2 separate regions of the Homo sapiens genome follow, and region 1 is linked to region 2. Evidence: fine-mapped QTL for protein levels in blood plasma. A gene starts in region 2. The other region holds a variant in brackets. All regions are shown on one strand. Distances are from middle to middle.

Region 1 (8,345 bases), 26 kb before region 2:
GGCTGGTCTCAAACTCCTGACCTCAAGTGGTCCACCCACCTCGGCCTGCCAAAGTGCTGGGATAACAGATGTGAGCCACCACGCCTGGCCTACAGCCACTTTTTGCAGCAACTTTTCACATCACCTTCACTTCTAAGTGGTTTGAGATACAATATTACTTGAATTGATAAACGATGTAGCCACTGGAAATTGTATCCCCCAAGATAAGTATTCTTTGCAATAACATCAGGATTTTTAAATTCTTCATGCAGTAGTATATTTATGATCTTCACAGCATAACTACTTAATATACTTTTAATGTAAACCTTATTAAAGTATAACACATATTAAAAAGTTTATAAATCCTAAGTGTATGGCCTGATGAATTTTCAGTGAACATGCTCATGTACCAAGCACCTGGATGAAGATAGCATCACCAGTACTCTCTCCTGCCATGCTCCAATCACCTCTCCCTCAGAATGCCCCCCACCACCCCCTTCCATTGCCTTGCTATGTGTAACACCTCCTGTCTTCAATACTATGCATATAAAATGGTACCAAGTTATTATATAGCACATAATTTGGTGTCAGGATTCTTTCTTCCAGATTATGATTGAGACCCCATCCATGTTGCTGCATCCAGTTATAGTGTGTTTATTTTTATTCATGTAGAATATTTCATTGTATGAATATGCTCCAATTTTACTAATTCTGTTATAGATGGATTCAGGTTATTTCTAGATTTTGGCCATTGTAAATGGTGCTGCTGTAAACATTCTCATGTAGCCATAATGTTCCTGTTAAGTACAGAAACATGCATTGAAAGGCTATAGGAGACGTGCTAAGTAAGGTCTGAGGCCTCATCAGACCTTACCAGTTTGCTAAGGTTGAACTAGACCTTAGCAGATCCTGCCAGATTGCACCTTATTAGCAGTATAATTCAGGTCGCCATGTTTCCTTGTCAACACCTGGGATTTTCCATTGTCTGAACTTTAGCCATTCAGGTGGGTGTGTAGGTTCATTGCATTGTAGTTTTTATTCGTATTTCCCCAGTCTTACTAAGCACATTTTCAGGCATTCATTAGCCATATTTGTCCTATTTTGTTAAGTACAAATTTTTTGCCAAATTTTATGTTTTTAAGAATTTGTGAGAGTTCTTCAGGCATTCTAGATACAAGTTATTTGTCAGATATATGTGTTGCAAGCATCTCCATCTACTTTGTGGCTTGTCCTTTTACTCTTCATGGTGGTGGCTTTACAGTATTACGTTTCTTCAAGAACATAATCTTCACAAGGGTCTTACATTGAACATAATCCAGGAAATGTCAGATTCCTTTACCTCCTTTTATACCTGATTGTCAGGTGACTTCTAGAAACACCCTAAACAAGCATTGGGAGTTAATGTTTAGGTTATGTATTGTTAACTATGTCACTGAGATGGAACCTTACAATATGAGAGACATTAAGATTGAACTCTTTCTAGTTGGGGAAACTCATGTTACATTTAGGCATTGATAAGGACTCATCCCTCCCCAGGCCAGCATTTGTGGCACAAAAAAGCAAGCTCAAATGTATTGGTTTATTATCCTCAACAGTCATTTCTGTTTTAACTAAAGGTCTTTGTCTTTACTAACATTAGCTGTTCATCAGCAATTACTTAATGAATATTTAAATGTTTTGCATTTACGTGTAAAAAAGCAAAGCAACTATTTTCTAACAATGATACACTAACTAACTTAGCTGTTTGTTACAGTCCCCTGTTATTCAAATACTAATCTAGGTGTTGCTATGAAGGAATTTTGCAGATAAAGTCCCTAATCAACTGACTTTAAAGAGGAGAGACAATCCAGTGGACCTCACTTAATCAGAAGGCCTTAAAAGCAAGACTGAGGCCTCACCAGGAGAGAAGAAATTCCTCCTGTGTACAACAGCTTGAGCCCATGCCCAGAGTCCGTCCTGCTTGTGCCTGTCCCTTCCTGACTGCTGCTCTATGGATTTTGGACTTGCTTAGCCAGCCCTCATAATCAGGTATGCCAATTCCTTGTTTTTTTTTTTTTTTTTATATATATATATTTATTATACTTTTAAGTTCTAGGGTACATGTGCACAACGCGCAGGTTTGTTACATATGTATACATGTACCATGTTGGTGTGCTGCACCCATTAACTCGTCATTTAGCATTAGGTATGTCTCCTAATGCTATCCCTCCCCCCTCCCCCCTCCCCCCACCCCACAACAGGCCTCAGTGTGTGATGTTCCCCTTCCTGTGTCCAAGTGTTCCCATTGTTCAATTCCCACCTGTGAGTGAGAACATGCGGTGTTTGGTTTTTTGTCCTTGAGATAGTTTGCCGAGAATGACGGTTTCCAGCTTCATCCATGTCCCTACAAAGGACATGAACTCATCCTTTTTTATGACTGCATAGTATTCCATAGTGTATATGTGCCACATTTTCTTAATCCAGGTATGCCAATTCCTCGTTTTTTAAAAAAAATCTTAATGTATATATCTCCTACTAGTTTTGCTTCCCTGGTTTAAACCTCAACCTCAATGATCTTAGGGACAATTGTTTTTCTTCACAAATAAATTACCAGCATGTAAAACGTTCATGAATGATCTTATTAGAAGACACAAGACTGTTTAAATGAGAACCATTCTGTGTACAGCTCATTCAAGGGCTCAACCTTGACTACTGATGTTTAAATAATACTAATTTTATAACTTTAGGAACTTAATGTCATTTTCTTCAGTTACCATAATATGCATTCCTACTGAATGTTTAAAATTTATTTTTTAACAGAAAAAAATATATTTTTAAAGCAGCCAGGTTTTACTGGCTTCTATCATGTTTTACTGGCTTTTATCACATTTCAAAAAGTTTGTCTATTAAAAGTTCTTAAAGGAAAACAATTGGGTATTTACAGAGATATTACTTTTCTTGGTGAGCTCACCAAGTTAAATCTCTGCTTGCAACTATGGGAAAATATTCATGTTTACAGTAACATATGAAACTAATACGTTTCCTTATTTAGCCATTTTCAGATTGAATCTTATTTAATTCTTGAGAACCTTAATACACCCAAAAACCAATGTTCACAAATATATTAGACTCAATAGGTAAGAAAAGAAAATCTGTCTTCTAATATCCCACAAATAGCTGTGTAACGATGGGGAATTCATTTAACCTTTCTGAGCCTACCTCTTTATTCTGTAGCTAACAGTTATTAAATATCCACTAGAAATCAAGTGGATATTTGCTTTCTAGACACTTGCTAGACACTAGAGATACAACAATGAACATGACAAAGACAGTCCAATGTCTTCAGAGGCTTAAAGTCTGGAAAGGTGAGGAGTCTGGGCTAAATTACTTTTAAGTCTTCTGTTCCAGAGTTGCTACTCTATACTTCAAATAGGATTACATTCATATTCTATGACCTGGGATTAATACAAGAATTTCCAAACGACACTGAAAAAGCTATAGAGCATTAAAGATTTCCTATGTGAACACTTGTAAAATAACTTTTAAAATCAGAAGTAGGTTTTATATCTTTATTCAGAGGTGATTCAACTATAGAATAAAGCCCTTTTAGCACTATAAAATCCAATGTTTTGAATTTTTTTTTTTTTTGCTCAGCAATACAGTTGCATTTTACAACTTTTATAATCCTGAAGAGATTCTCTTATTTGGAGTTTTTTCATGCATTCAGGTATTTAGCATGATGTCTGATGTGGTCAGTAATAAAGGTTGCAATGAAGTAGTAGCTATGATCATAA[C/T]CCTAGAAGATAAAGAGATGATAAGACATTTATCTACCATTCAGGAACATCAGTATTAGGAACATTAAATATATCTCTAAGGTCGTTTAATTTGCTTACAAATAGTCATAACATTAAGGAAGTATGAGGAAGGTTTATAATAAAATCAAGGTTGTCATCCTTGTACTTTAACATTTTCACTGTACATTAAAAGAGCAGCAAAAATGTGAAGGAAAACTAAACATTCTGCCTAGCTTCTAAACATAGCCTAACTTCTAAATGCTGCCATTAATATGTAAAGAGTGGAAGTAACACATTAATTAAATATGCAGAGTAGACATGTCATATCAACACTGTAGAGTGCATTAAATATGCAGAGTAGACACTGTCATTGAAAATGACACTATCAATTGACAGTGTCAGTTGATATGACACTGTCATATCAACCAAGATGAAAAGAATCAGGATTTAGAGATCTTAGAAACATGGGCAAGACATTTCAATTCACAAATGCAGCACATCAGTAAGACAGTGACTATTAAAACACAAAATAAGCACACAAACAATATAGAAAAAGAACATAAAAATGCCCAAATGTTCTATCATTGTTGGGAAGTCAAACACAGCCATCATAAATCCTGTTAACAATTCCTCCTACACAGTAAAAGCATGTTGTATCTTTATGTGAGGGGAAATATGTCATTAAGGCCTGACATCCCTTAGCAAATTAGGTAAAAAGTCAGTAATCCTTTGGAAAACTAACATGAAACAGAGAAAAATGCAATGTGCTAAGCAGTTAAGTTGAAAGAGATTTCTATCTATCCAGTCATTTAAAACCATTGTTGTAGGTAAATGGAGAAATAATCCCTTTCTGCTGACTCTGACACTTCTTCTGAATATAAAAAATAGTCTTCCAAAAAAAAAATAATTACAATAAGGTATTAACGCATTTTCCTTCTTTTTTTGTTGTTCAACTTTTAAGTTCAGGAGTACATGTGCTGGATATGCAGTTACATAAGTAAACGTGTGCCATGGTGGTTTGCTGCTCAGATCAAGCCATCACCTAGGTATTAAGCCGAGCATCCATCAGCTGTTCTTCCTGATGCTTTCCCCAACTCCCATCGCCCTTTGGCAGGCCCCAGTGTGGGTTGTTCCCCTCCATATATCCATGTGTTCTCACCATTCAGCTCCTGCTTATAAGTGAGAGCATGTGGTGTTTGGTCTTTTTTTTTTTTGAGACGGAGTCTCACTCTGTCACCCATGCTGGAGTGCATGATCTTGGCTCACTGCAACCTCCACATCCCGGGTTCAAGCGATTCTCCTGCCTCAGCCTCCCGACTAGCTGGGACTACAGGTGCATGCCACCATGCCCAGCTAATTTTTTGTATTTTTAGTAGAGACGGGGTTTCGCCATGTTAGCCAGGATGGTCTCGATCTCCTGACCTTGTGATCCGTCCACCTTAGCCTCCCAAAGTGCTGGGATTACAGGCGTGAGCCACTGCGCCTGGCCTGGTGTTTGGTTTTCTATTCCTGCATTAGTTTGTTGAGGATAATGGCTTCCAACTCCATCCATGTCCCTGCAAAGGACATGATCTCATTCCTTTTTATGGCTGTACAGTATTCCATGGTGCATATGTACCACATTTTCTTTATTTAGTCTATCACCGATGGGTACTTGGGTTGATTCCATGTCTTTGCTATTGAATAGTATTGAATAGTACTGTAGTGAACATATGTGTGCTTGTATCTTTATAACAGAATGATTTATATTCCTTTGGGTATACACCTAGTAATAGGATTGCTGGGTCAAATGGCATTTCTGCCTCTAGGTCTGCGGAATCACCACACTATCTTCTACAATGGTTAAACTAATTTACACTCCAGGTGGGAAGAACTTTCTAAGGGTATCAAACACCAGATAATTTATCCCTATCTACAATTAAAATACAAGGTTGAATAAACCGAAAGAAATGAAAGTCTAACAAAGATTTTGTTTTTCCCATTTTGAACTAGTGAATGGTCACTGATGGGAAAAGATGGGAATTTTTCTAAGCACCTAAGAAATAAAAATAGAGCTAATAAAAATATCACTGACGCTTCAGAGAACAAGGAAATCCCCAAGGTTTTGATGAATCAGTAAATGTTCTCAATCTCTCCCTTCCAGAGAGGTATTAAATGTTTATCTTGGGAACAGCTGTTAATAAAAAGTTCTAGTTTAAGGTCAAGGTAACTTAAGTCTTCTAAAGCAATCTGTCTTCTATCATGGAAGTGAATGTGACAGGAATGTTGTCAAGATTAAAGCTGAGCCTCGGAATTACTTGGTGTCATGTCTCTCAATGATTAGACTAGTCCCAGCTGGCTAGTTGAATTTAGAGCTAAATTACAGTTTCCTATATAAAGAAAGAAATGTAAAGAAAAACATTTTCCATCCATATAATTCTTGAATTGTTAAGAAGTTAAACAGGCCTGGAGTTTTAGGCCACCAAACCTGTAAAATGTACCAAGTATTATCTGCCATTTTTCACAGATCAAAAGATGGATCTGATAGAAAATGGGTACAGATGCAGGGAAACAGATATCTCAAAAGACTTGTGTGACCAAGTTCCAATGTGACTGAGTATGCCATATTTTTATCCTTAGTTTCTTGTGTGTTAAGAGCCATCAGACACATATGAATAGCCATCATTATTATTAGAGAAGTCCCAAGGTAAACCCAGGAATATATTGCAAGACAAGACATCTAAAATCCAAAACAAATGACCATAAGTTCCATAATGATAAAGATTCACCTATATGAGAAAGAAGAAAATGCCTGCCATTGAGGGCCCAAGAATTTTAAAAAATGTCAACAAAAAGGCAATAGAATACATTTGAACAATTGGTATCCTGCTGAAGTTACACAATTCGAGCTAATTGTATCATCCCTGACGAGGGTTTCTATTTATCAGTCTTATTAAATGGGGATGGCTTCTTTAATTAAATTCTTTGATGAATGAGTTGGTATGATATGTTAAGCAGCTTGTGCAAATGCCTATGTTTAGTGACACTTGAAGGGGACTTTTCTCCTCTACCTCACACTTTAAATGGAAAATCCTTGGTAGCAAAACTCTTGACTCCTGGAGTATAAAAATAAATGAACACCTTTCATTCTTTCATTCTTCACTCAGCTCTCAAAAAGGGAGCAGTGCTCCAGCAGCTATGATGGATGTTTATCCTAACAGGCAGTGTTTTCTTATATATTTTCCAGACCCAATTAGAAAAGCTTGGATAAGAATCCCCAGGTTATTAAATCTCTTCAGTGTATAAGGAGGAAGACTTTGCACTGTATTCATTTAACAAGTATTGAGAGTCTCTGTGCTAGATACCTATGCTAAATAAGCATGGGATACAGAGATGAATGAGAGAGCTCTACATTTCTGGGATTCTCTGCCATGTTCTTACTCTTCTCTAGCAGGCAGATGCAGAGGCTAAAACAGCCTCTCAATCTTCAAAAAGGTCCTGAGACTTAAGGAGGTAGTATAGCCTCTCCTTCTATTCCACAAAAAGAGATTACTATTTCTGGAAACTTCTTCACAGTATTAGGTCACTAAATTTTTTTTTCTCACTGTGTAACTCCAATAACTAAAGATAAGACATACTAGGCCCTTCTTTTTCAGACTAAGATTTGATCTCTGTACACTAGATATCAGAATTCTGCTACCTAGTATTTTTTTTTCAATTTAGATTCCCTGAAGCCAAAATAGAAAAAGAAAAAATTATATAAAATAATAACCAAATAAATATCCCCGATGCACTAACCCCTCTCTCTAAAAAATTTTTTTTGACATTCGACAGAGTATAAATATAAATTGTGAGCATTTAACACCATTAAAAAGAGGTAAAAGAATGAAGTTGAGTAAATCATGTGCATGATTGTAATTATTTTCTTTATTCTTTCTCAGATCGTTTATTTATATATATCCCCTATTATTTTCAGCTTATTTTTTACAGCTTCTATCCCACAAGGAAATACAGTTATACTATACTTGTAATCAAATGATAAAGCAGGTGATAAAACTCGCAGACCCAGGGTAATCTTGGGTCAAAGCTGGCAAGAAAATCTGAAAGCAGACTCTCTGGAGCCACTACTTAGGCATGCTCATTCAGTTGTTGATTCAATTACAACGAATCTCAACGAAATCCGCTTCAAGCTATGTAGTCCACTCTTAACCCGACCATGCTGGAAGTAAAGTGAATAGAAAATTGCACCTGAGCTCAACATTGTGACTCTGGTGCTTTGAATACTTTCTTACTTTTTTAGAAGAATTGAATGGTTTGTCTTGACTCCTCATTAAGTATAGCCAACTATGTGTTCTAGTTGCTTGGGATACAGGCATTTTAGAAACAAATAAGTGGACTTATTTTTCCCTCCAGGAATGTCATCATGTTCTAACTGTGCTGTTTTTATAACAAACTTGAGATTTTCAGACTTTGTTGGCAGGCAGAATCATTGTAGAAACAACAGAAATTTTGGGCCCAGTCTTTGGGGAAGCAAATGAGGTATCCAACATGGGTAGTGCCAAGAAATTAAGGTCATTTGGAAAAAACATGGTTTGGTACGCACTTATAGCTATA
Region 2 (8,345 bases):
ACACCAATGGTTTACAAATGGGATATACTTTTCACAGCAAAGGTTATACAGAGCTTTTATATGCATATGCATTCTCAATAGAGATGTTTTCTTCTTTTGAGGTAAATGACTGTACACCCTGATGGGATACCACATCACCACTTAATTACCTTAATTGCCCATAATCTAATTATTTGCCACAGGCCACCTTAATACCTATTTTGCCATAAAGCTTGTTGGTACTTGGTCAAAACCATCTGCTGAAGTAAAAGTACTATGAAAGTTTTTTATCTTTTTAAATCAATAAACAAAGTTTTCAAGTGTAATTTCGAAGCATGAGATGTAGTCAACTCCTGAGTGAAGAAAATAAGAGTGGGGACTAGGTAAGTAGAGGAAGATGGATCTATCTGGCTCAGTTGTAAGTCGAACTTGTAACATGGGGAGAAAGAAGGGAAGAGATGAGGACTGAAGGACTACTACTAGGGTGACTAGAAAGGATGTATAAGAAAAGTGGGCTTATGAACGATGAAGTGACTGATATTCAGTAAGAAAAATATATATGGAAACTTACATAGTATATATCATGTCACTTATCTGGTAGATTTCATTTAGGCTCTAGAACAAATATATATTTAGGTTCTAGAACAGATTTTGTGGGAGAAATAGGGTGACAGAGTAGGGTGGAATACCAAAAAACCAAACAACACCCTTCCTCCTTCCCCTCCAAAAAACAACAACAACAACAACAACAACAAAAACAGAAAAACAATTTCACAGTGCCAGTGGGAGTTACACAATTTTTCCCAAATGTTAGTGAACATCAACATTCTTTGGAGAAGAAAGGGTCTCTCAGTGCATAATACATCCATTCCCCTAAAGGTCAAACCTTACTGTTCTTCCCTTTATTTTTTATTTTTTGGAGATGGGGTCTTGGCTGTGTGGCCCAGGTTGTAGTACAGTTGCATAATCATGACTCAGTGTAACCTAGAACTCCAAGCTTCAAGTGTTCTCCTACCTCAGCCTCCTGAGCAGCTAGGACTACAGGTGCGTACCACACTGGAATATTTTTTTTTTTAATTTTTTGTAGAGACAGGGCCCTTTACTTATTAAAGTTAAATGTCATCCACCTCCAGAAATCTGAGTTCTATTTTTATCCTTCTTCCCCTGTGTCTCAAGTTTTCCATAAATCTCTACATGTGTTTTTTTGTTCCCATTCTCTCAGATTCCTTGGATTTTGATGTTTCTTCATTTCCAGGATGTCCTATTCCACTGGCTCTTAACAACCTAGACAGGTGTTCCCAAAACCAACAATCTACAGTTCCAATAACTGCTGTTGACCACCACTGTGTTGTTCAAATCCTCTTCTCAGTGAAAACTCAGGATCTGGCTTCTTCCCTTTCACTCTGTCTCCTCCCACCTCCCTTTTCTTTTTTCTTCACACTCTTTCCCTAAACCTCATTCCCTAAATTTCAACTACATTTTCTGGGTGAAATAATCTAAATCTGCATCTCTATAACCAATCTTTCTCAAGCATTAGTACCCATAATGACATTTCTTGCTGGACTCTTCTACCAAGACATGTCACCAGCTATTAAAACTTACCACACCTAAAATTAAGCTTCTGCATCTCACCTTCAAACCATTCCTCTTTTCATTGCCTCTCTTTTTCAGACTCATGCCTGTCTTGCCTAATCTACATTTGAGATGCCTCAAAGTTACCTTCTTTTTGAATTCCCACTGCCATCATCCTAATTATATATAAGAAATTAAAACTTAGCCTCTTCCTTTCTTCCTAATACATCCCACTACGATCAATCCTGCATGAAAGCCTAGGGTTTTAATCCACTTAATTTACTGGTCAACGGATCCCTACCAACAGCTCATCTGCAGCCTAATACGGCCTACGTGGAATTGTTAGTCATTTTTATTTAGTATTTTAAAAACTGTGATAAAAACACATACATAATATTTACTATCTTAACCATTCCTAAGTGTGTATTTCAGTAGTGTTAAGTATCCATTAGTCATATGTAAAAACGCAGTTCGCCAGCTCACAATAATGAGCAGATGAGAACTGCCTCATCACCCCCTGGCTGCTGCAGGTGGAGACTACTAATCCCTTTCGCTGTTAGGCCAGTCGCTGAGAACCAGAAAGTCACTGAAATGGAAGACCATGTTAATTGTACAATTTTCTTCAAGTTTAATGCCATTAAAATTTCATAAAATTAAAACCATGCAGGATCACTGAAAAAATAGATGAATAAAACTCCATATAAACTTCAGTCACACTCTACCTGTGTGCAAACACAGTCTTTTTTTTCTTCTTTTTTTTTTTTTTGAGACAGGGTCAAACTCTGTGGCCCAGATTGGAGTGCAGTGGCCTGATCTCGGCTCACTGCAATCATCTCGGCCCCCGGGCTCAGGTGATCCTCCCGCCTCAGCCTCTGGAGTAGTTGGGACCACAGGTGGCACCACCATGCCCAGGTAATTTTTTGTAGAGGAGGTTTTGCCATGCTGCCTAGGCTGGGTCTCTTTTCCTTCATAAAAATTCACATGGCTTGCCTAGGTAAGGATTTCTATTAAACTCTGGGGAAAATTTTTTAAAAAAAATATAGCATCTATAAACGCCAAACACCTTCACATGGCTCTAAATATGGTCTATAATTTGGTCCCAGATTATTTTTCTGGTCTCACTCCCTATTTTGTTAGTTAAACTCAACTATGCATAATTCTAGGATGGCCTGGATGTTGCTATCGGGTGGCTTTACTCAATGCCACGGTACAATGGTTTCAGAGCAGGTTTTGGGGCCAGACCCTCCGGGTTCAAACCCTGACTTCACCACTTATTACTACATGACACTGGGCAAGCTAATCTATGCCTCATTTGCCCATCTGCAAAATGGGTATACAGTAATATATATCAATTTGATAGGGTTGCTCTGGGAATTAAATGAGTTAATTCACGTAGTGCTTAAAATGCTGCTTCTACCACACACACAAACATGAGCTATTATTTTTCCTGCAACCTGAATGCCCTCTCCTTCCAGGTGCGCTCAATCCCATTTCCCTAATGACCCCATCAGAAATGACTTCCAGTCCCCCACAGCGCTCTGAGAGCATTTTACGACCCGAACAGATTTTGTCAAACTCCAAAGACACGTGCTCCCCTCGGCACCATCAGGTGAGTGCTCCTGACCGCGCCATTGGCTCGTGCCCCGACGCGGACGCTGCCTAGAGCAGCAGGTCCACACTCCCCCGAACCAGGCGCCGGCGGCCGCTAGTAACGCGTTGAGGCCAGCTCCCTCCTTAAAATGCGTACACATCTACTTCACATTTTCGCGCGGTGGCTGCGGGTCTAGGAAAGTCTTTCTGAACAGGAAAAAGCTGTACAAATGTAGCGGGCAGTAGGTAAACGGGCGCTCGCCCCGGGTTACACTAGGTTGGAGGCTCAGAGAAGGAAAAGGGATTAGAGGCGAGGCTCCGGGTCACGGGAAAAGGTCCTTGGCCTCCTGTCATGGATGGTGGCGCCCAAGGCCCAGGGTCGCCGTCTCTGCGCTCGTGCCTGCGGATACCTGCACCGCAGGACTCGGCGTCCGCCCCGATCACGCCTAGCCGTGCCGCAGCCGCAGGAAGGCTGACAACGTCCAGGCCTCTACCCGAACCCAGTCTTACCTACGGTGGCGGAGTGACCAGAAGAAGCGGGCCGAAGTAAAAGGCGGGGCTCAAGATGGCCGCCGGGGCCTCGCCTCAGCCCCGCCCATATGATGCCCCGCCCCTCCGGTCCCACTCACTCTCGCTTTTAACTCCGAGAACCCGCTCTTCTCCAGTTCAGTCTCCATGGCCCCGCCGCCTTTGCACATTGCACTTCCCGGCAGCCTCCGCGTGGGCGCCCCCTCCAACTCCTGCCTTCGCCCGCGTTTCTGCTCTGTGTGGTTACTAGGACCAACGAGGAGGGCGTTAGGTTAGTCCCTGTCACCTTGTCGGGGATCAGTCTGCTGTGCGTGCTCAGACTCTTCCCAGAGCCAGCAGCAAGAACCCGAGGCATTAATAAACTTGAGATGTAGCTTCGCTTAACTCGTGCAGAGGGTTTCCGTGTCACTTATGTAGAAACTAGGGCCTAATTTCAACTCCCTCAACTCCTCTGTCCCAAGACTATCCACGTCACCTACTTGGTAGCTTGAGTTAAACAAGAAACCTTTGAAATCTCCAGTGGCCGACACGCAGTGGGAACTCCATCAGTTTTCTGTTTTCTCCCTTCTTCCCTCAATAAAAATTAAGTTGAACTGACTAAGATTTGCTAGTTGATAATTTACAGCAAATCTTTCCTTTTGGTCTCTCTGATTTAAGCAAACTGTTGAGTGTACTTTGCCTCTTGAGAAATTAAATCTGATTACAACAGAGCTAAGTATTTTTCAGCAACGGTTAGACTGACATTGTAAATACACAATCTGATAGTTGGGGCTGGCCTCATGGGCCTGCAACCTGTGCTATTACCCGGCCCCCAGAACAGAAGGACGCTACATTTTCTCTCAGTAAGTGTTGAACCAGGGCCCCACGTTTGTGTCTGGAATTGGGCCCTGCAAATTGTGTAGCTATGGGAGCTGACTTAAGTATGGATGAGCTGCCACACAAGAGATTACCTGCCAGAATCTATTGTGTGGCTCAGGCCCATTTTGCCATAGTGATCTTTGGACTAAATTAACCTGTGGACTGAACCTGTGGATCAATTGGAACTTAGACTGAAAATAATGTTTCATCAAAATAATGTTTTTATTTTGAGAAAGCATTGAAGTAAATTGTTTTAAACTTTCTTTTTACTATCTTTAAGTATAAATCATTGAAAAGGGGATTTTCTTCAGTTTCAAAACTGAAACAGAATAAATACCTAAATTGCAAGTTCTTTATAACTGATGTTTGAACAAAGAGAAATAATTGATTAAATGATATATTTGCCTAATAAGTGGACTGCTGTGAGGTGCAGACTAGCCAAAGAACTGTAAGTGTGAAGTTCTTTACTAAAGGGTTCTTGTGTGAATACAATGTGAGAATAAGCAGAACTAAAATTTCTTTTACCCAGCATAAATAAAATGTTAATAGATCCACAAAAGTCGATTGCTTAAAAATATTAAGAATATATATAATTATCATTATTATTTGGACATGGAAGCAAAGAAGGCTGAAATCAGAAATTAAGGTTGACATTTTAAAAAATGGCACTACCAATAAAAATGGATGAATATTAAGTACACAAAGAAATAGTCCAAAAATTATGTGTAAATGTGTGGCTGAGAGGATATAGGACTCTTGGTTTGAACTAAAATGAGTAGGAATATAATCTTAAGGAGGCAATAAAGGGATGCAATAAAAATGAGAAAAAGTCAAATATACTTGAAGCCTGTAAGAAAAGAGATTGTTTTAGTCAGTTCCAGCTTAACAGAAATTTATTCCTCACCATTCTAAAAGTCTGGGAAGTCCAAGATCAAGGTGCTGATGAAATCTGTTCCTGCTGAGAGCCCTTTTCCTCGTTTGCAGAGGAATACCTTCTTGCTGTAGTCTCACTTGGTGGGTGGGGTGAGGAGAGCTCTGGTTCCTTCATCTTATTGTAAGGGCACTAGTCCCATTCACATGGACTCCACCATCATGGTGTAATTATCTTCCAAAGTCTCCATCTCCAAATACCATCACGTTAAGGATTTAGGGTTCAATGTTTGAATTCTGGGGAACACAAACATTCAATCCATAGCAAAGATAGTTTTAGAGAGACTAGAAAAGACACCATACATAGAAAATAATATAATCTCTTGGGTATCAAATATGCTACTTGAGAAGTGTCCTTGTGGCTTTTCCACAGACTAGAACAGGGTTTCTCAACCTCGGCACTGTTGACATTTGGGGCCAGATGATTCTTTGTCGTGGAGGCCTACCCTGTGCATTGTAGGATGTTTCGTAACATCCCTGGCCTCCACTAGCTAGATGCCAGTGGTACCCCTAACAAGCTTAGATACCCAAAACGTCTCTAGACATTGCCAAATGTCCATGGAAGGAGGGGTTGGTGTAGAGGAGGGCTGCAAAATTGCCCCTAGTTAAGAACCACTGGCCTAGATAAACATTTTTCAAAATTCCCTTTATTTTGATTCTATTCTTATCTAGTGACATTTTGGAAAATAATAGGCTCCATTGTTATTTAATAAATCAGAACTTAGGTTAAAAATGCTTTAGTCTCTGGTGAGTGTAGCTGAGATGATACATTTTCCCAAAGACTTACCATCTCTGAGCATGATACTCACCTTACAGAATTGAGTTTCTGAATGTGTACTCTGAGGACCAGACTTTGGATCATGGGAACTGAACCAAGTACCGGAAACTTATAGCCCTGTGCCACTGTTCCATCTTGACTTTGTTATCTTAAGTTCTAACTGCAGAGTACAATACAACAAGTACAGACAAGCCTTTCAGTCTCACATTCATATTAGCAAATGTCCAAATTTCACATATTTCAATTTTATTTATTTATTTATTTAAGATAGGGTCTTACTCTGTCACCCAGGCTGGAGTGCAATGGCGCAATCATAGTTCATTACAACCTCAAACTCCTGGGCTCAAGTGATCCTACTGCCTCAGCCTCCTGAGTAGCTGGCACTACAGGCGTGTGCTAGCATGCCCAGCTAATTTTTGTATTTTTAGTAGAAATGGGATCTTGCTATGTTGCCCAGGCTGGTCTTGAACTCTTGAGCTCAAGTGATCCTCCCACTTCAGCCTCCCAAAGTGCTGGGATTATAGGCATGAGCCGTTGCACCCAGCTGCATCTGGCCTCAATTCCATTTACTTTTTTTTTTTAATTCTTAAATCCTAAAAGCTATATTTCTTTTTCATCACACATTCAAAAAAATCAAGAGTTAGTGTGTGATTGTACAGAGCTAGACTTTTGTGTTAGCCATTATTGTTATTTTTGTTAGCATGAGAACTAAAACTATAGATTTTTTCCTGTTCAAAGTGACTCCTATTCTTTTATCACCTTTTGCTCAATTACAGTACTGTTAAGTTTCTTAACATTCTACATATTTGTTGAGCCACAGTTTGTCAGTTTATTCATAATTTTTAAAGTTCCATTGATAGCTTATTAGAAACAAAATGAACTCTGGCTATCTGTTAATCATTGGCATGTATGAAAACTGACAAAAGGCCAGTTCACTAACTGTTTTGGTTAATGCTTATAAATCTCCTTTGGTGTAAGATTAGTATTTTGCTAGTGAGACTACCTATGCTTTCATGATCCTTTTCTCAATAATGCCAACTATTTCTTTAGGTCATTTCTAAAATGCCTCCTAGTCACTTACACATTCCCCAGCATAGCTTAAACATGCTTCTATAATTATTTGTAAACATGGAGAGTGAAGTAAAATAAACTATTTCATAGACAATGAGGCAACTAAAAAATTCTGAGATTACCATTATAACCATGGCTGGGATTTTGCTAAAGGAAACTAAGAATTTAGAAGAAAATTGGGGTTTTATGTATCCTCCAAAAGTCAGTAGCTCTAGATATTATATCATTATCTTTTTAGGCTGAGAACTAGGACAGCTTCCTTGGTTATGAAGAATCAGCTGTTAGGTAGAAATCCCCGCAGATATGCCATCTTGGCCTTATTGCAAGGACCATTATATCCACAAGTCACCCCAAATTTCCCTTTCTGTTTGCCTCCCTATATGAAAACAATTTAGAAATTCCATTTTCTTTTTCCCATGTCCTCCCTCCAGCTCTCTCTCTCAATAGACAGATAAATGGATCTATCTATCTATCTATCTATCTATCTATCTATCTATCTATCTATCTACAGTCATGAGTTGCTTTATGACAGGGATGTGTTCTGAGAAATGCATTGATAGCTGATTCTGTCACTATGGGAATATCACAGGGTATACTTACACAAACCTAGATGGTATAGCCTTCTACCCACCTAGGCTACATGGTATAGTCTGTTGCTCCTAGGCTATAAACCTGTACAGCATGTTACTGTACTAAATACTCTTGGCAACTGTTACACAATGGTGTTTGTGTATCTAAACACAGCTAAATACAGAAAAGGTAGAGTAAACATGCAGTATTACAATCTTATGGGACCACTGTAGTGTATATAATAAGTTATTGACCAAAACATTGTAATGCAGCCCATGGCTGCATCTGTACACACACATGCTCAAAATATTACTGTTAAGAAACACTTGCTATGTGCCAGGCACTATGAATGAAGATGACATTATTACCAAGTTATCCCTCCAGGTTCATGAGCTACAGCTCCCTCATAATTCCATCCTATGCTGAAGCTGTATCAAGCTACTTCCCTCCTAATTATAATCTAAACACC

Evidence for each region. PIP is the chance, under the fine-mapping model, that this variant and not a neighbour inherited with it causes the effect. Protein levels are from the aptamer-based SomaScan assay of Sun 2018.
Region 1: its variant is fine-mapped to the plasma level of the ESD protein (Sun 2018, PIP 0.95). The variant lies in the coding sequence of ESD. If it changes the protein, the assay may bind it differently, which can mimic a change of level.

What each region holds. Positions count from the first base shown.
Region 1 is chr13:46,767,743-46,776,087 of GRCh38, forward strand. It overlaps ESD (esterase D), which reads right to left. Exons shown (of 10, transcript NM_001984.2): 10 at 3,514-3,754. The coding sequence ends at 3,674. Among named protein-coding and RNA genes, the nearest start is that of ESD, 25 kb to the right of the region's middle. The variant C/T (reference allele first, on the strand shown) is at 3,753.
Region 2 is chr13:46,793,454-46,801,798 of GRCh38, forward strand. ESD (esterase D) reads right to left here and starts at 3,708. Exons shown (of 10, transcript NM_001984.2): 1 at 3,652-3,708. RefSeq lists enhancers at 2,843-3,444, 3,576-3,625 and a silencer at 3,216-3,265.